Linked DNA regions of Homo sapiens. The protein of the gene in region 2 purifies or fractionates together with the protein of the main gene of each other region. This does not show direct contact. Each region holds a gene or a part of one and is shown on either strand. Other genes may lie near its edges.

The links.
Region 1: the proteins of FAM78B (region 2) and VPS13C purify together in Homo sapiens (affinity purification with mass spectrometry; 2 studies listed by BioGRID and IntAct, with this or other methods). This does not show direct contact.

The regions. Positions count from the first base shown.
Region 1 is NC_000015.10:61,959,448-61,966,969, forward strand, and holds part of VPS13C (intermembrane lipid transfer protein VPS13C), read right to left. Parts: intron 6,696-7,522; coding exon 6,636-6,695; intron 5,415-6,635; coding exon 5,252-5,414; intron 4,505-5,251; coding exon 4,388-4,504; intron 3,406-4,387; coding exon 3,302-3,405; intron 3,092-3,301; coding exon 2,924-3,091; intron 2,447-2,923; coding exon 2,142-2,446; intron 149-2,141; coding exon 1-148. UniProt on the Homo sapiens protein: Mediates the transfer of lipids between membranes at organelle contact sites. Necessary for proper mitochondrial function and maintenance of mitochondrial transmembrane potential.
Region 2 is NC_000001.11:166,163,461-166,171,984, reverse strand, and holds the start of FAM78B (protein FAM78B), read left to right. Parts: upstream 1-4,983; 5' UTR 4,984-5,736; coding exon 5,737-5,999; exon of another isoform or gene 6,000-6,108; intron 6,109-8,524.

The DNA.
Region 1 (7,522 bases), on a different chromosome or scaffold from region 2:
ATTCATTGAATCAAGATGTCCTTTAATTTCCACAACAGGCACCTTGTGGTACCAAGATGCAGCTAGATTCCGATTTACAAGAAATTCCAAGTTAATTGGGTGCAACAGCTGAATATCAGGATGGTAGATGCCTGGCTGGATCACTGTCCTACGAAAAACAGAAATGTTACATAATGCATAGATATAGGGTAGAAATGCAACATATTAAAAAAAAGCAAAGTCAAGCAGTTATTTGCTGCTCTAAATACTGATCTGAAACAGTGTGGCTTGAGTATTTTCAAAACTGAACCTATAATTAATCTATAATCCACTAGAAGGGACAAATTAAAAGGTGATATACAATGAACCATTAAGAAAACTTTTTTCTTTAAACAGTAGATAGGTGAAAAATTGAATAAGTTTTTAAAAGCAATCCACACCATTGAAGAAATACAGAAAATCATCATATACAGTTGTTCAAGGATTAATAGGTATGTTGGTGCAGAGACTGAAGAAAATGATGGCAAAGTGAACAAGAGGAGTTAGCATTTTCCAAGGCATTTCATAAAGGTTTTCTCTAGGATTATTTTCTAGACTTGCCTTGTAGTCATTAATTTTTTATTCTACATAATTAAATCTTCATGGATGGGGTAGAAAATAATTTTAAAATGAATTATGTACAGATTTCATGTGCCACCTGGTATGAGCACTGAAGATACAAAATAATTTACACAACATGCCTGCCAAAAATGTGTAAGTTCAATCAAACCATGAGGAATCACTCAGACACAACCAAATTGAGAGGTGAGTGGAACCGGACTGTAGTCTTCAAAACTACAGTAGTAGTCATGTAGTCATAAAAAGACAAAGAAAAGCTGAAGAACTACTCCAAAATAAATTTCTGTCAGTACAGAAATCTTCCTCAATAGTACAGAATACAATTATACGCTATGGGTGATCCTGAATCAGGGAGAAATTTTTATAATGGACATTCCTATAATGCGAATTATTATAATGGGACAACTGGTAAAATCTGAATATTGACTGAATTTCAGATTATAGTATTACATCGATATTAAATTTCTAGAATTATATCATAGTTAATATAAGAGAATGAATGTCCTTGTTTATAGGAGACATATGATAAAGTATTTAGGGACAAAAAGTTAAAGATGTCTATTCTCAAATGATTTAGCAAAAAATGTTTTAAATAATATGTATATGTTTATAGATAGGTTAAAGCAAATATAAACAACTGGTGAATCTAGATGAAGGATATGTAGGTGCATTCACAGTACTATTTTTTTCCATTTTTCTGTAGGTCTGAAATTTTTTAAAACAAAAGTTGATTAAAAAACTGTTCTGGTGGCCTGGTGCGATGGCTCATGCCTGTAATCTCAGCACTTTGGGAGGCCAAGATGGGCAGAACACCTGATATCAGGAGTTTGAGACTAGCCTGGCCAACATGGTGAAACCCCATCTCTATAACGAAAAATACAAAAAAATTAGCCAGGCATGATGGCACGTGCCTATAGTCCCAGTTACTCAGGAGGCTGAGGCAGGAGAATCACTTGAATCCAGGATGCAGAAGTTGCAGTGAGCCAAGACTGCACCATTGCACTCCAGCCTGGGCGACAGAGCAAGACTTCATCTCAAAACACAAAATAAAAAACTCTTCTGGGCCAGGCGCGGTGGCTCACACCTGTAATCCCAGCACTTTGGGGGTCCAAAGCAGGTGGATCACCTGAGGTGAGGAGTTTGAGACCAGCCTGGCCAACATGGTGAAACCCCATTTCTATTAAAAATACAAAAAAAATTAGCCAGGCATGGTAGCACATGTCTATAGTCCCAGCTACTCGGGAGGCTGAGGCAGGAGGATTGCTTGAACCCAGGAGGCAGAGGTTGCAGTGAGCCGAGATCACGCCACTGCACTCCATCCTGGGTGACAGACCAAGACTCCAACTCAAAACACACACACACACACACACACACACACACACACACACACACACACACAAAACAATGACAACAATAAAAAAAACTGTTCCGTGTAATGGAACAGTTTATTTGAATAAACTGTGTTGGGTAGGAATTTCAAGTCATAAAATTTCATGGAAATCATGAATATAATATTTAAATCCATAATTATTGAAAGAGCATACCTATAAAGTGTAAGCTTTGTTAGCTGCACATCCATTCTATCAATTACTGGAGGATTTAAGTAGTCTTCATCAGACACCAGACTGAACTGATTATGAACTCTGATTAACCCAAGATCTACCACTACTGCATTGGTGGAAATAGAAGACTGTGGGATGACTATAACCGGTGCTTTCAAATCAATATTGATGGAAACACGAAAACTCCTCTGGGCAAGATCTTTCACACTTGTGGCAGCCCTTTCTGCAGCCTGGGCAGTGGCAGCACTCAGAGACTCTTTGGCTGTCTGGAAATTATTCAGGAAGTTCTGTGGACACAAAGCATAAAAAGAGAAATTCAAAGAGAATACAGGCACATCAATAATAACACTATCTTCTTTTCATACATGTGGTAACTTTTTTTTTCCAATATTTAACTTTCCATTGAGCCCTATTTTTCTAGCAGTATTAAGAAATTACGGATAATCCATCTATAACTATGAGCTGCCTGAACTGAGCTAATGTTATATGGTTAAGGAACAGAGAAAAATTTTTTTCCAATAATTTTTATACTAAAGAATCTGGCTTCATTATATTGTAGCAAAAATAATTTGTTCTAGACAAAAATCATTAAATGATTCACTTTTCAACTGTTAAATAGGGGTTTTGATCTCTACATTCACGCATAAATATAATTAAAATAATGCCCACTCTAAAATCCAAGGTTTATAACATTTGCCATCATAATTATCACACTTTTAAAATATTTCAAAGTTGAAAAATCAATATACAAATAATTATTTTACCAGAAGTGACATAAGGAATTTATGAAGATAGACAATCTGAATACAGCCAACATTCAGAGACAGCACACCATCCACTTTGGACATGTCAGTATACAAATCCCCCTCAGTAGCATCTGGATACAAATCCAAATTAAAACGGAAAACTTCATTTCCCATTATTGACACAGCCTGAAAAACAGAGACTTGAATGTACTCTATCCGGGAAGGTAATGACAAAATAAAATCTCATTTACAAAAGGCTTTACATTTATAATCTTTATAAAAAAATTTTTCTATTGAAATATATTTCATTAATGTTTTTAAAATAAAATACATTTTACAATAGAAGCTCATATTCAGTCATTAAAGAATATTAACTATCTGTTTACAATCACCTACTTTCTTATGAACTGTCTTTGGATCAACATCTGTGACAATAATATTTTCTAGTCGGGCAAAAAGTGACTGCTTTCTTGACTGGAGAGAAAGGGAGGAATCCAGTCCTGAAAAAAAGAGTGTATTATTATAATTTCTACAGACCTACCATAAATAAGATCTTTCTTTCCATTACATTATTTTATTTTGGGGTGACTTTTTTAAATTTAGCAATGTTTCAACTCCCAATGGATAAATAAGTTGCAATATTAGAGTTTTTTGGTTTTATAAACACCAAAACCTATAAATTCATTAAACAATGATTATGTGACTTTTCAATCAGGGGAAGAAATACATCTAGTACAAATAGATTATCTCAGGATTTAAGTAAATTATCCTTTATACCTTATATCCAGTCATTTACATGGAAACTATAAAAGTTTCACAAATCAAATTCAGACTAGTAGATGCGCTGCCAGTTTGGAAAGGACAAAGGAAAAAAGCCCCTAGTTTTCTAGTTTTTAAGTTCTTAAAAAATTTCATTAAACATATTCAACATATTCTTGACCTCTACCAGGTCACAACAAGCTAGTAAAAGTAAGCCAGAGGAAAAGCTAGATGAGTTTTGGCAGCTTTTACCTAAAAGAACATAATGGGCTCATAGATATTGTCACCATTATAAGATTGCTTTTCATAAGGAAAGACAAATAAAGACAAATACATAATTATATATAAAAATCATATGAAGGTAAAAAAAAAAGATTAAAAAGTTACTAGAAAGCACGTCCACAGACCTTCACCTAAAATCTAGACTGACACTTCTCCTAGCCCATCAATAGCATTCCTACATTGACATCAGTATCCCTTTTCCACTTCCTAGATAACTCTCAGGAAGGTCCCAAACACCAGGATATGTGTAGAGGTCAATTGGGATGGTCAGATTCTGACCAATATCTATATCCCAAATAGAGGAAGCATACAATCCAATTACGTCTTTTCAGGTTTCACAGCTTAGAGCCCTTTATTTGTACATTCTTTAGCATTGCAAAGAGACAAAAAGAAGGAAAAGTTTATCTTTTCGCCAATTTTCAATGCCGTGTGAACTTTTACCTTGAATCTTGATTTCGGCGATATTGTTCTTTTCGTTGCAAACAATGACACAGAAAGCATTCAACTTGGCAAATAGCCTGAAATCAATAATGTCACTATCTCTGGAGGATACAATCGCTAAAAATAAAACAAAGCATCTGTCACATGGTGAGATTCTAGTCATCTACATTCTTTTAAGGTTTATTCGCTATATTAAGTGAACCACTGTTATGTTAAAAAAAATTATAACATTCTCCAACTCTTAAAGATTCAAACACTTTTTTTGCTTTATATATTCTGTAAAGTTTGCATTTTTAATAGTGAGATATTACTTTTATAATTTAAAAGCAAGAGAAAAAACTACAATAAATAAATAAGGACACTGAACCTCAGAAAAGTTAAATAATGTGTCTAAGGTTACATGGTTGAAGTAGCAAAATCAGGATGTGAACTGAGTTCTTCCTGATCCAAAATCTGGGCTCTTGGCCAATTAGATGCTACTCCTGAACCCTTCCCTACCTTTGTGTCTCTGAGCCTTAATTTCCTTATGTGTAAAATGGAAAGAAAGACTAACTCTTTATAAAGCCCCTTCAGGAGCCACTGAGCGGGGAGGAAGAGCTCAGTATAAATACAGATCTTCTCCCCCTATTACCTACCTAAGGGCTTCCTACACCACCACCAAAATAAGAACTAAAAGAAACATTTTTAAAAACAACAGTATTGATTACATTTGCCTTATACATCAGGTGCTCGCATATAATTTAATTTGAAGAAAAGGGGAAAATGGTATTTAAATGACTGAGTCAGATAGTCTCTAGTATTCCTCATTTAGCTTTAGAATTCTAAAACCCTTGCTAACAAAAAACAAAAATGTATGTTTCATACCTTTTGGCAGAGTTGAATTTTTTTGTTGTTTTTCAGTTGAAATTTGTACCTCCTTAGCAACACTTATGCTTTGATCATCAGATGGAATAATGGTTGTGAGGTAATTAATAGAAGCGACAAGAGCTTGTGTTTGCAGCAACAGATTTAAAGATGAAAAGGCCACCTAAAAATGTTTTAAAGAGAAAATTAGTTTTCCACAGCCAATTATAACCTGTAGTCTCCACGACAGACCCAAAAGATTCTCAGGTGGGCTTACATCATTGCTTTCCACCACTCTGAAGGAAGAGTAAAAAGTGGAAGATTCACAATCCCCTTAAAAAGGGAATATACAGAGAAAAATTACACTTATACACTTCAGGGGTACATCAGAATATTACAGTAACCTAATTACTCCATTTCCAAAGCATAATGGTTATGAAGTCTATACTCTGCTTCTCATGGCTATGCTGATATTCAACATACAGACGGCTTCTTGGATCTTCAATGGACAATTATGATTATATAAAATTATAAGTCAAAAGGCGAAATCCCAGAACCACCATGTGCTACTACTATGTCTAGAAATGACTTCAAAGGTGGCATCCGTGAAATTTAAATATAAAAAGGACAATTATGAATGGGTTACTAAGTGACCTTTTCAAATCACAATAATGGTGTTATCATTTAAAAAGAAACACAATATAGAACTTGTAGGGGAAAAGTACTACTTTTTTTAAAGCAATCACTCTAGGAAGCTAAAATAGCAATACAAATTGATTTCAAGAATGGGTAGTTTTCTAATAGCAAATTAATATAAAATAAAAAGCTCTGTTTATAAAAATGAATTTCTTTTCATTTTCTCATAACACTAAATGGATATAAAAACAATAAAAGGTTCACAATATTAAAACAGATTTCCCCATCTCTCAAAAAAGTGTGAGCTAAAACTCGCCTCTCTCCTTTTCTTTTTAGTTACCCATAAGTACATTTTGCCCCTCTTACTCTAAGCTACTACGTAAGTAGTGCTTTGACTTCAAAAGTGCTCAACATGTCTCCTTATATTTTATACACTTTTTCACCTGTACATCAAACAATGGTATCTAGTTTGGCTAGTTTAGAAACCTTTTAGTTCTTTGTACATCAAAGTTCTTTTGTCTACAGCATTCCCTAATTTAGAAATAATACTGAAACTTTTAAGGACGCTAGGATGTGATATAACAAAACAGCTTTACTAAGCTGAATCATAAACACAGAGCATGGTAAGTATCGATGAGGTTATTTATAACTCTTATTGGTCCTTGATTATGTCATCAAATTACCTAGTCAATACTCCTCAAAGGATACTAGAGGCTTTGAGACTAGGTTATTTTCAAACAGGATAAATTCCTTTAACAGAATTTCTTACCTTAACTGTTTGTTCAGTTTTTCCAAAAGCAGTTTGAAAACTAGGTCCATTCTTATCAGCCTGAAAAAAGAAGTAAAAGTTCTAAAGAAGGTACTAGGATCGAAGTAAATAAATCACTTATTTATTATCTCTGGTTAATTTATTTATAGTTATAAATGTATTTTATATACACTGTATATTTAATTTTATTGCCATTATTTTAAATTTACATCCAAATAATGTATTTATTATAATAGTGCAAATGTGTTCTCCTCTTCAAACATGGGAGAATATTCATTTCTGGGAAACTGTAGCTAAGAATCAGAATGACAAACTCTGAAGGTTGTAAGGTGTCACAGTCACGTAGCCCATCTATCCCCTAATGCTTAAATCCCTCCATAAAGTCGTCAGCAAGTCTACATTTTTTTATATCTCCAGTAAAAGAAACCTTGTTTCTTTACAAAACTAATCTTTAGAAAGCTTTTATTTAATGAGGTCTTCACATTGAGTCAAAAATCTGTCTCCCATCATAACTAACCATTGGTCCTAGTTCTTTCTATCCCTTGGGAACATAAACAAATTCAAACTCAAAGATTTACCTCCTGTGAGAAGTCTTCTGGCCTTGCCAATTTCCCTGCCCCTCTGTTCCAATAATGCTTTGTGCTTTTCTTTATTAGGGAATCAATCACATTATATTCTAATCATTATTTACTTGTGTTATCTCCCTACTCGTCTACAATTTTCTTGAGAACAGGGAATGTTTTTCATTTCTGTATCCCAAGCGCCTAACAGTACAGACATCCAAAAACACATCCAGAAGTATTCAATAAATAGCTGCTGACTGATTAAACAAATCGATTCATCTTGAAGGCAGCTAAATACCATCAGTTCCTTCAGTGTTTCTCATA
Region 2 (8,524 bases):
GAAGACACTGGCGCCTTCAGCCAGGAACAGGGTAGTCCGGAAGAAACAATGGCTCACAGAAAGAGAGGTATCAAAACTCATTGTGATGGAGGAGGATACAGCAGTACATCCAAATGAAAACATCTAGCAGGCAGATGGGTCTGCTGACCTTGAGTTCAGGAGAAATGCTGGGCTGGCAAGACAAACTTGGAAGACATCCATGAAAAATACCAGTTAAAACATGGATAAATACCCTGAGGGAGTTCAGGAAGAAGAGGGGAGACCCTTAGGAAGTATGACCCTGGAAAATGAGGAAAGCAAGAGGAGTCAGAGAAGCTAAGAGAAGAATCAGGATTTGCAGAATCACGGGATTAAAAGTAGTTTTCTTTCAAGAGTGCCAAATCTGACAGATCAGGACAGAGAAAAGGACTTTGAAAGCAGCAGAGATAGGCACAGCAGACCTACAACAGAATAGCTGAGGAACCAAGGTATCCTTCTTCATAGTTTCTGTGGCCTAATCTAATGCAAGGCTAGTGGAAAAAGCTTGATAAATATTGACTACTTGAACCACACAATAGCTGCCACATCTTGGGCTGAATGACTTCTGCAAAGTGCCTGAGTCCCTTGCCATATTCCACTCCATGTTGAGTTTCTTAGCCTGTTCTAGAAGAGAAATTAGTAACCCTGGCTCTGAAGTAGTGGTAGGGAGAGCTCACAATCAAGAAGGAGCTGTTTCCTCAATCCTGCAGTCTTGGGCCTGAGGCTAACCTCTTGCCTGTCTTTGGGCCATCTAAGTGAGACGGAAATCCATGTCTGTTTTTAACAGCTCCAGAGGCAATTCCTCAACATCTCTTGGTAGTCTGTTCTATAGTCTCTGAAAACCCTTGCCAAGGTCAACTAGAAAATAGGCCCTTGTGACCCAGAGTTTCTAAAAAGCTCACTTGACAAATTGAGTAATGAGTCAATCAAGAGGAAAAATAAAGTCAGAGATCACCCTGCTTCTGGAAGGACCGAGTCATCTACAGCTAAAGGAGTGGATTGTAAAGGGGACACAGAGGCCAACATCCTGGAGAGTGCACAGCACAGCTCTAACTCAGGGAACTGAGGAGCTCTGTCATGCCCAAGAACATCAGAAGCTTGAAGTACAAAGGATCATTTGTTCTGTGCCCTGAGAATGAACTCCAATGAAGTTATTCACAAGGAATGATTGTTGTCAAGGTCTTGTCATTGGAGCTTTCCCATTTTCGTGGTGTCTAGAACTGATAACCCTTGAGATCATGTATAGTGCTCGAAGACAAAGGGCATCACTTAACATCAAGGAGCCACATTAAGAAAAGAGTGGGGGGACAAAGAGGTACAGTGCAGAAAGAATTAGAATAAAAACATATGCTTGCTGCAGGTATTGAGACAGAGCTTATAGGGAAGCTTATAGGGAATGTCAAGGGTCCATGTCTGTGAATCATGTTACATTTTATTGGCATTCTACTAAATATGATGTATGGGAAATGTTGTATTGGATTTTTAAGAATACTTTTAGTCATTCAAATGTTTATTGAGCAGCACCTAGGTGCCACGCACTAGGCTGGGCAACAGGGCACGATGGTGCATTCTCTTGAGGAGTGAACAGCTTATTGGGAGAGACAAGTGTGAGCAAGGAACTGTGAAACAGCTTTAAAGGTGTTAATAGAAGCAAGGGACTTACCATGAGGAGACAGAAAGAGAAACTTAGAAGAGCAGCACAGAGAAACTGTTGCAAATTCTGGGGATTTCATTTGAGCTACAGATAGCCCTGCATTGGCATTTGCAGACTGAATATGCATGAATGATAAAAACCCCCAGTGAGTAATCCAAAAGGTCCCTGTCATGAGGTAATTTGCTGAGACACAAATTTGAATGGGGCTGCCAGGAGGCCAGAGTGTACTTGCCAGCCACTCAGCTAGTGAATGACCACTCCTAACACTGGCATTTGTGTCCCAGTACCACTTAGCTCTCCTTACTTTCTCATCGACATCCGCACAATAATTCTCATACTGTGATCAATTTTTTCTTCACAGAGTCAGGGAAATAGGGCGTTAATAAGGTAAAGATATAAGGTAATGAAGTAAGAAGTTTATTTTAATGGCAAAATTTATTTAAGTAGCTTTAGAAATTACTTTGGCCCCATATTCATAGAACCATTAAGAGTCTAAAAAGATTCTTTACATTTTTCAGCTACACTTTACCGTACTTTATGGTGGAAATTATATGCCATGATGACATTCATGATTTTGGAGACTCACCAAGGTCATGGATGAACCCTCTGAGAATGTCAAGGGTCCAAGTCCATGAATAATGTTACATTTTATTGGCTTTACTAAATATAACAAAATCTTATTTTAAGTTTGAAAAATAAGATATTCTTCCTTATGTGATTTCCCTATATTTTGGGAAAGGCTGCCATTCCCCTCCCCGTTTATGAAGGTTTAACATGTGTCACCAGAAGACAAAGGAGTTATTTATCCACAAAACTGCAGCCTGACAAGCAACTCAAATTAAGAAACATAACTACATTCCCCAATGAAATGCTTTCCTTTTGGTCTATTGCCTGGAACCTAATAACCACTGAAACTCAAACTCTGACCCCACCCTGCCCCCCAAATACCTCCAAGAACCTCGAACTTAACATGACATCACCCACAGTCCCAAGCTGCTTCCCCTTCTATCACCTTGTTCAGTTACCAAGTAAATACATTTACCTCCTAAGTGATTCTTAAATGCAAATGCAGCCAGGCCTCTCCAGCCCCACAGCACTGCCCCAAGCTAGCCGAGGGTCAAAGTATCTGTCATCACAATATTCTGAAACGCTGCCTCCTCTATTCTCTATATGGATGCAGAGTAATTTTTCTCAAAATGCATGGCTTGCCTTCATTGGCTTCCACTGAAGTTTAAGATAAGGTCCTATCAAGAGAAGACACTGGGCCCTACTAGAGGGTGAAGGGTAGGAGGAGGCAGAGGATAAAAAAAAAATACCTATTGGGTACTATCCTCATTACCAGGGTGATAAAATAATCTGTCCAACAAACCCCTATGACATGCAATTTACCTATATAACAAACCTGCACCTGTACCTCTGAACCTAAAAGTTAAAAAAATTATTCACCAAACCCAGTGATCAAGGTTAATAACACCAGTAAAAAGTCATATTGCTATCATGTACCCCTGACATAATGCAATGAGAAGGCACTTCATCTTCATGGTATTCATCCCCCAAATCCAAAACCCTGGTCTAATCATGAGGAAACATCAGATAAATGCAAATGAGGAACAATTCTACAGAATATCTGACCAGTCCTCTTTAAAAATGTCAAGGTCATGAAAAACAGAGAAAGACTGAGAAGCTGTCACAGATTGAGAAGAATAAGGAGATGTAATGACTAAATGCAACATCATATCTTGGATTAGATTCTAGAGAAAAAAAGACATTAGTGGAAAAACTAGTAAAATCAAAATAAAGTCTGTAGTCTTAATTTTAAAAAGAAAAAAGATATGGTCTATCAACAACCAATTGATTCTTGGACAGTGATTCTGATGCCCATGGTCGACACATAACACCTTGAGAAATGCCTTGACTGTGAGTTGTTTCTCCCCCTCAGTACAGGATGAGTTCTTTCATATCTCTATGCATTTTGCATTTGCCAAATGCTGGTCCTGTACTACTCATTCACCTTTCTCTTTTCAGTGAGACTCTACAGTCTGTCAGTATTCAATTTAAATGTCACTACTTGAGCAAAGTCACACGTAAATCTCTCAGTGGCCAGAGAGCCACTGAGTGGCTCTCTGACCACTGAGGGATTTACATGTGGCCAGAGATTTACATGTCTGGCCTTCCACGGCACTGGATACACAACCCCACTAAAGCAGGTGTCACAGTTTACTATAATAACTTGTTAACAGGTTTATTTTCTCCAGTGATCCATGTGCTCTTTTTCAACTTTGAATCCCTAGTACCTAGCACTATGTTTGGCTCCTGCCAGGCAGGCAGTCAGCCTTTGCTGAATGAAAGGACCAGTGATTGAGGTCTGTGGCTACACGGTAAAATGAGAGAGACGAGTCATCAAAGGGAAAAACTGCTTTTTTGTTAACTATAAAGTGAACCAAGGTGTCAGAACAGTTAAAACAAGGATGAAGAGTGCTTTTAGATCTCAATCAATTTTTAAATTACTCGTCACACCTGTCCTAGCTAAAGACTAACTCTAGCACCTCCTGCGGCCTGTTAGTCAGTATTTCACACTTGGGCAGCAGATCCAGCAAATGTTCAATGATCGCAGAAGAAATACTTAGAAGCTATTGGCTTTGAAAATAAAAATGTAAGAAGATGCCTAGTAAAAGCATCTGCTAAATATTCTTCCTGTTTGGCACATTAGACTGCAGTATCAGACACATGACCGTGGTCATACTGTACACAATGCCCAATGTCTGCCAAAACTCTGGCATATGAGAGACTTAGTGCTGGAGTACGGAGGGATTCTTCCGGTATCCCCACTACACACAGTGGTGGAAAGAAGAGCTTCCAGAACAAACCCAGTCAGGCAAAGAGGCAAATACACTGCATTTAGTAACGCTGCTGGAGCCCGCCCTTCACCCTTTCTGAAGGTAGGATACTAAAAGGGCTCAAGCCTAAATCTAATCCAACAAGCTATATTCTGAATAACGACCAATCTCTGATAAAGCTGTTCCCCTAACCCTTCTGCTGCCCGAAACACTCACTCTACAGCCCCTACTGGGCTACCGGGTTCCCCACTGGACTCTGGACAGCGCCGCGCCCTGCTCGGCCTCACCCACCCGGTGGCGCTTGGGCCCGCCCTAGTCCCCCACCCCCACCCCAGGGCACCACCTACCAGGGCCCCGCCCCGCCTCAGCCCCACGTGCGGGGCCCCACCCCGGCGCTAGCGGCCCTTTAAACACCCCCACCCTTACACATTACCCCCCCCCCACCCGGACGGCAGCCGAATAGGGACAAAACTCATGGCGTACAGCCAGTTTCCTCCGCGGAGCACGTCCTGTGCTGCTCCAGCCGTTGGGGCTCTCCACCCCGGGCCACAGCCTCCTGGCGCCCCCCGGGCCGAGGCAGCCGGGCCGAGGAGTGTCGGTGTGGTCCGGCTACGGGGCGGGGCCGGCGGGAGCTCCGGTCGCCGCCGCCGCCGCTGCTGCCTCCGCCTGCCTCTTGGGCCGCCCGCTCGCCCGCCGCTGGGTGCGCTGCACGCGGGGGGCAGCCGTGGTGCAGAGGTTCATGCAGCGGCGGCGGCGGCGGCGGCTGCTGCTGCTGCCGCCGCGGAGGCAGACAGACCGGGCGCTGCCACCGCCGCCCTCCCCCGGCTCCATGCCGCCGCCGCTGCCGCCTCCTCCTCTCCGGCGAGGGGCGGGGGGCTCCGGCCCGGGGTGGGCACCATTCCTCGCAGCGCCGCTCCCCTCCCTGCCCTCCGCCCGGGCGCTGGAGCCGGCGAGGGCACCCGCCGCCTCCTAGGAGTGCACCCTCCGCGCGCCCTGCCGGAGCGAGGGGGCGGGCGTGGGCGGACGTCGGGGCAGCGGGGACCCCGCGCGGCTGCAAGAGGAGGGGGCTTCCCCAAGGATGCCCGGCGGCTCCCCGCTCCTAGGTGCGAGCTGAGTCTGACCGGGAGCGAGCGGCGCGTCGCCATGCCGGCGTGACGGGCGCCCCCGGCTGCCCGCGCGGGCCCCCGCGCTGCCCCACGCCGCGCCGTGCCGGCACCGGGCTGCAGGATGGGCTGTATCCAAAGCATCACCTGCAAGGCGCGGATCCGGCGCGAGAACATCGTGGTGTACGATGTGTGCGCCACCATCGACCAGTGCCCCACGCGCATCGAGGAGACCTCGCCCATCGTCCTGCGCTACAAGACCCCCTACTTCAAAGCCTCCGCCCGCGTGGTCATGCCCCCCATCCCCCGCCACGAGACCTGGGTGGTGGGCTGGATTCAGGCGTGCAATCAGATGGAGTTCTTCAACACCTACAGCGACCTGGGCATGTAAGCGACTCGCCGCGCGGCACGGGAGCGGACTCTGGGCCCCCAGCTCTGCTTGCCACCTTGACCCCCCTCCCCAGCTCCTTCCTACTGCTGTCCCCATCGTCTTTCTAAACCTTCCTCCCGCCTCCTCTCCCACCTCCCTCCTCCCTACGCTTTTGTTTCAGTGACAGGGCGGGTGTAGGGAGGCTCCTTGCGAAGGCATTTTCTCGTGGTTTGCTTCTGACTTCCCAGAAACGCGAGGAGAAAGGTGCGGGGCGGGAAGAACGCGACAAGGAGGGTTCGAGAGGCGGAGGTGGGGATGGCTGGCGAGTGCCTGGCGAGTTTCAGGGCGCCGTCTGTGCTTTGTGGGGCTCCCCGGGAAGAGTTTGGGGGAAACCATAGAGGAGTGGAGTGGAGTGCCGGGGGCGCATGGGCTGTGCCGCGCGTCCTTTGGAGAAACCGGAGCGGGCTTGGAAGAGCAGGTCCCGGGCATCCGAGCGGGAGTTGGTAGTTCTGTCCTTGCCCTCGCGACTGTTGAAGTTTCGAACCCTTGTCCCCCGGGCCAGGGAGCCCGGAGGCGTTTCCGTCTGGAACCACAAGCCGGACACAGTTGCCTCTCTGTTTCCGCGCCCCCTGGACCAGTTCTGGTGGGGAGCTGGAAGGCACCGAGTGCGTCCCGGCCAAGAAGGGCGGATAGCCTTGTGCGAGCAGCGTTCGGCTGGCGCGGCGCGGGGTGTTTCTTATGCTAAAGGAAAGGATGGATCTCTTGTCTGTCTAGGGTCCTTACTTTTTAAAACTTTCCTAATTGCGGCACTGGAAGGGATTCCCCTGGCGCCCACCGCCGAATTCTATCGGCGAGCTGGGAGCTCTCCAACTTTCAGCAGCGCCGGTTGGTGCGCGCCGGGCTTGGCTGCTGCGGTGAAGACCAAGGATCGCCGCGGCTCCTCAACCGCCAGGGGCCGCAGGCTACGGGCGGTCGCGTCCGGGACTTTTATATTTACCAAATTTTCATAACTCCGCACCCGCCTCCTTTCAGAACTAGACTCTGAGCAGGTGGCAACGACAATAGCTAAAAGGTTTAGGGCCTGCCTTCTACCTGCTGTTACAATGTAGGTCTAGAACACCCTAATTAGCCAGTCTGCAGCCTACAGGGAAACCCTTTTTCTGGAAATTCAACCTCATTTCACTTATTAATCTAAAACTCTAGAGCTCCCAAGGTTCGTCTATTTAATATGGATATGGGGTGGGGGAGTTCCCATTTTAAAAGGTCAAACCATCTTTTTAGCAGCAGTTTGCAGGCTTTTTATTGCACTCTGAGAGCATGTCAGTTAACACTAGTCATAGGCGCTAAAAGAAATTTGACAGGTCGTTGTTTTCCTTTTTTCCTCCCAAAGATTTTGCACTTTTCTCTTTAAGCACAAAAGCTTAATCCTTGAGAAAACTCAATTCCTAGTGAAGAAATGTGAGGCCCAGTTTCCAATATGCCTCAGCACACTGTATTCTTCCAGAGAAGACAGCTAGATGTGAGAAATGGGGGATATTTTATTTGGGGCGAATCATGCCATTTAAAAACTGACATACCCTCAAAAGAATGATTATATGTGAACACATGTGTCTCTTAAAACTGCTTTTTAAAATAAATCCATTGTTTCCAGCCAAGTCAGAGAAAGCCACAGGCAGGGCAAGAGCCCTTCCTCTCATTTCCCTGGCCTCACCCTGATGGCAGTGGGTTGCTGGAGGACAGCAAGTGCTCCCCACAGCAGCCTGGGGCCCCTGGTAGAGGAAGCCAGGAGTGACTGTGCAGAAGCAGCCTCACTTTTCCCAAGACTGCACAGCGGAACTCTCTGTTGCCTCAAATCTCTTATGAATAAGTAAAAGCAAATATATAAATACAGAATTATTTCCGTAAAACTTACTTTACCTTAGGAGAAGTCAAGTTGAGATATAAACAGACATGGTAGTTGAACTTCCTGGAATCTATAGGGAAGGTATGTCCTCACTGGAACCAACTTTAATGGATATGAATCAGTGACAGGATTCCTGACCCTTCCCCACTGAATCCTTGCATTTGGGATTTGGAAAGTGGTTTTGTTTTTAAACTGCCACTTTTGATATTTTAAGATTCTTGGTTTTCATGTAGATGTAGGAGAGCAAAAATAGACCCCCAATAAATCATAAAGCATATTATTATAGATTTGTGTCCACAGTCTACCTGTTTCTTCATGGTTGCAATAATTGCTATGTGTTAAAGGCCACTTTGGAGCCCAAATTTGAATGAACCAATTTCCACAAGATATTTATGCCTGGAAAATTTTGCTAGTGTAAACTTTTTAATGGGAATTCATATTGCATGAAAGTTGCTGCAGTCTATTAGTTATTATGTCTACTTTAGCCAATATCTGGATTGTAAAAAATAGCATGGAGTGATTTTTCACCTCTGTGCAGTGTTCTGTCACATGAACCACAATATGGTGAAAGGGTTTGGATTAGAAAACTGCCTTTTCAATATTTTGAAAAGGATTGTGCCAGAGGAAATCCACAACATA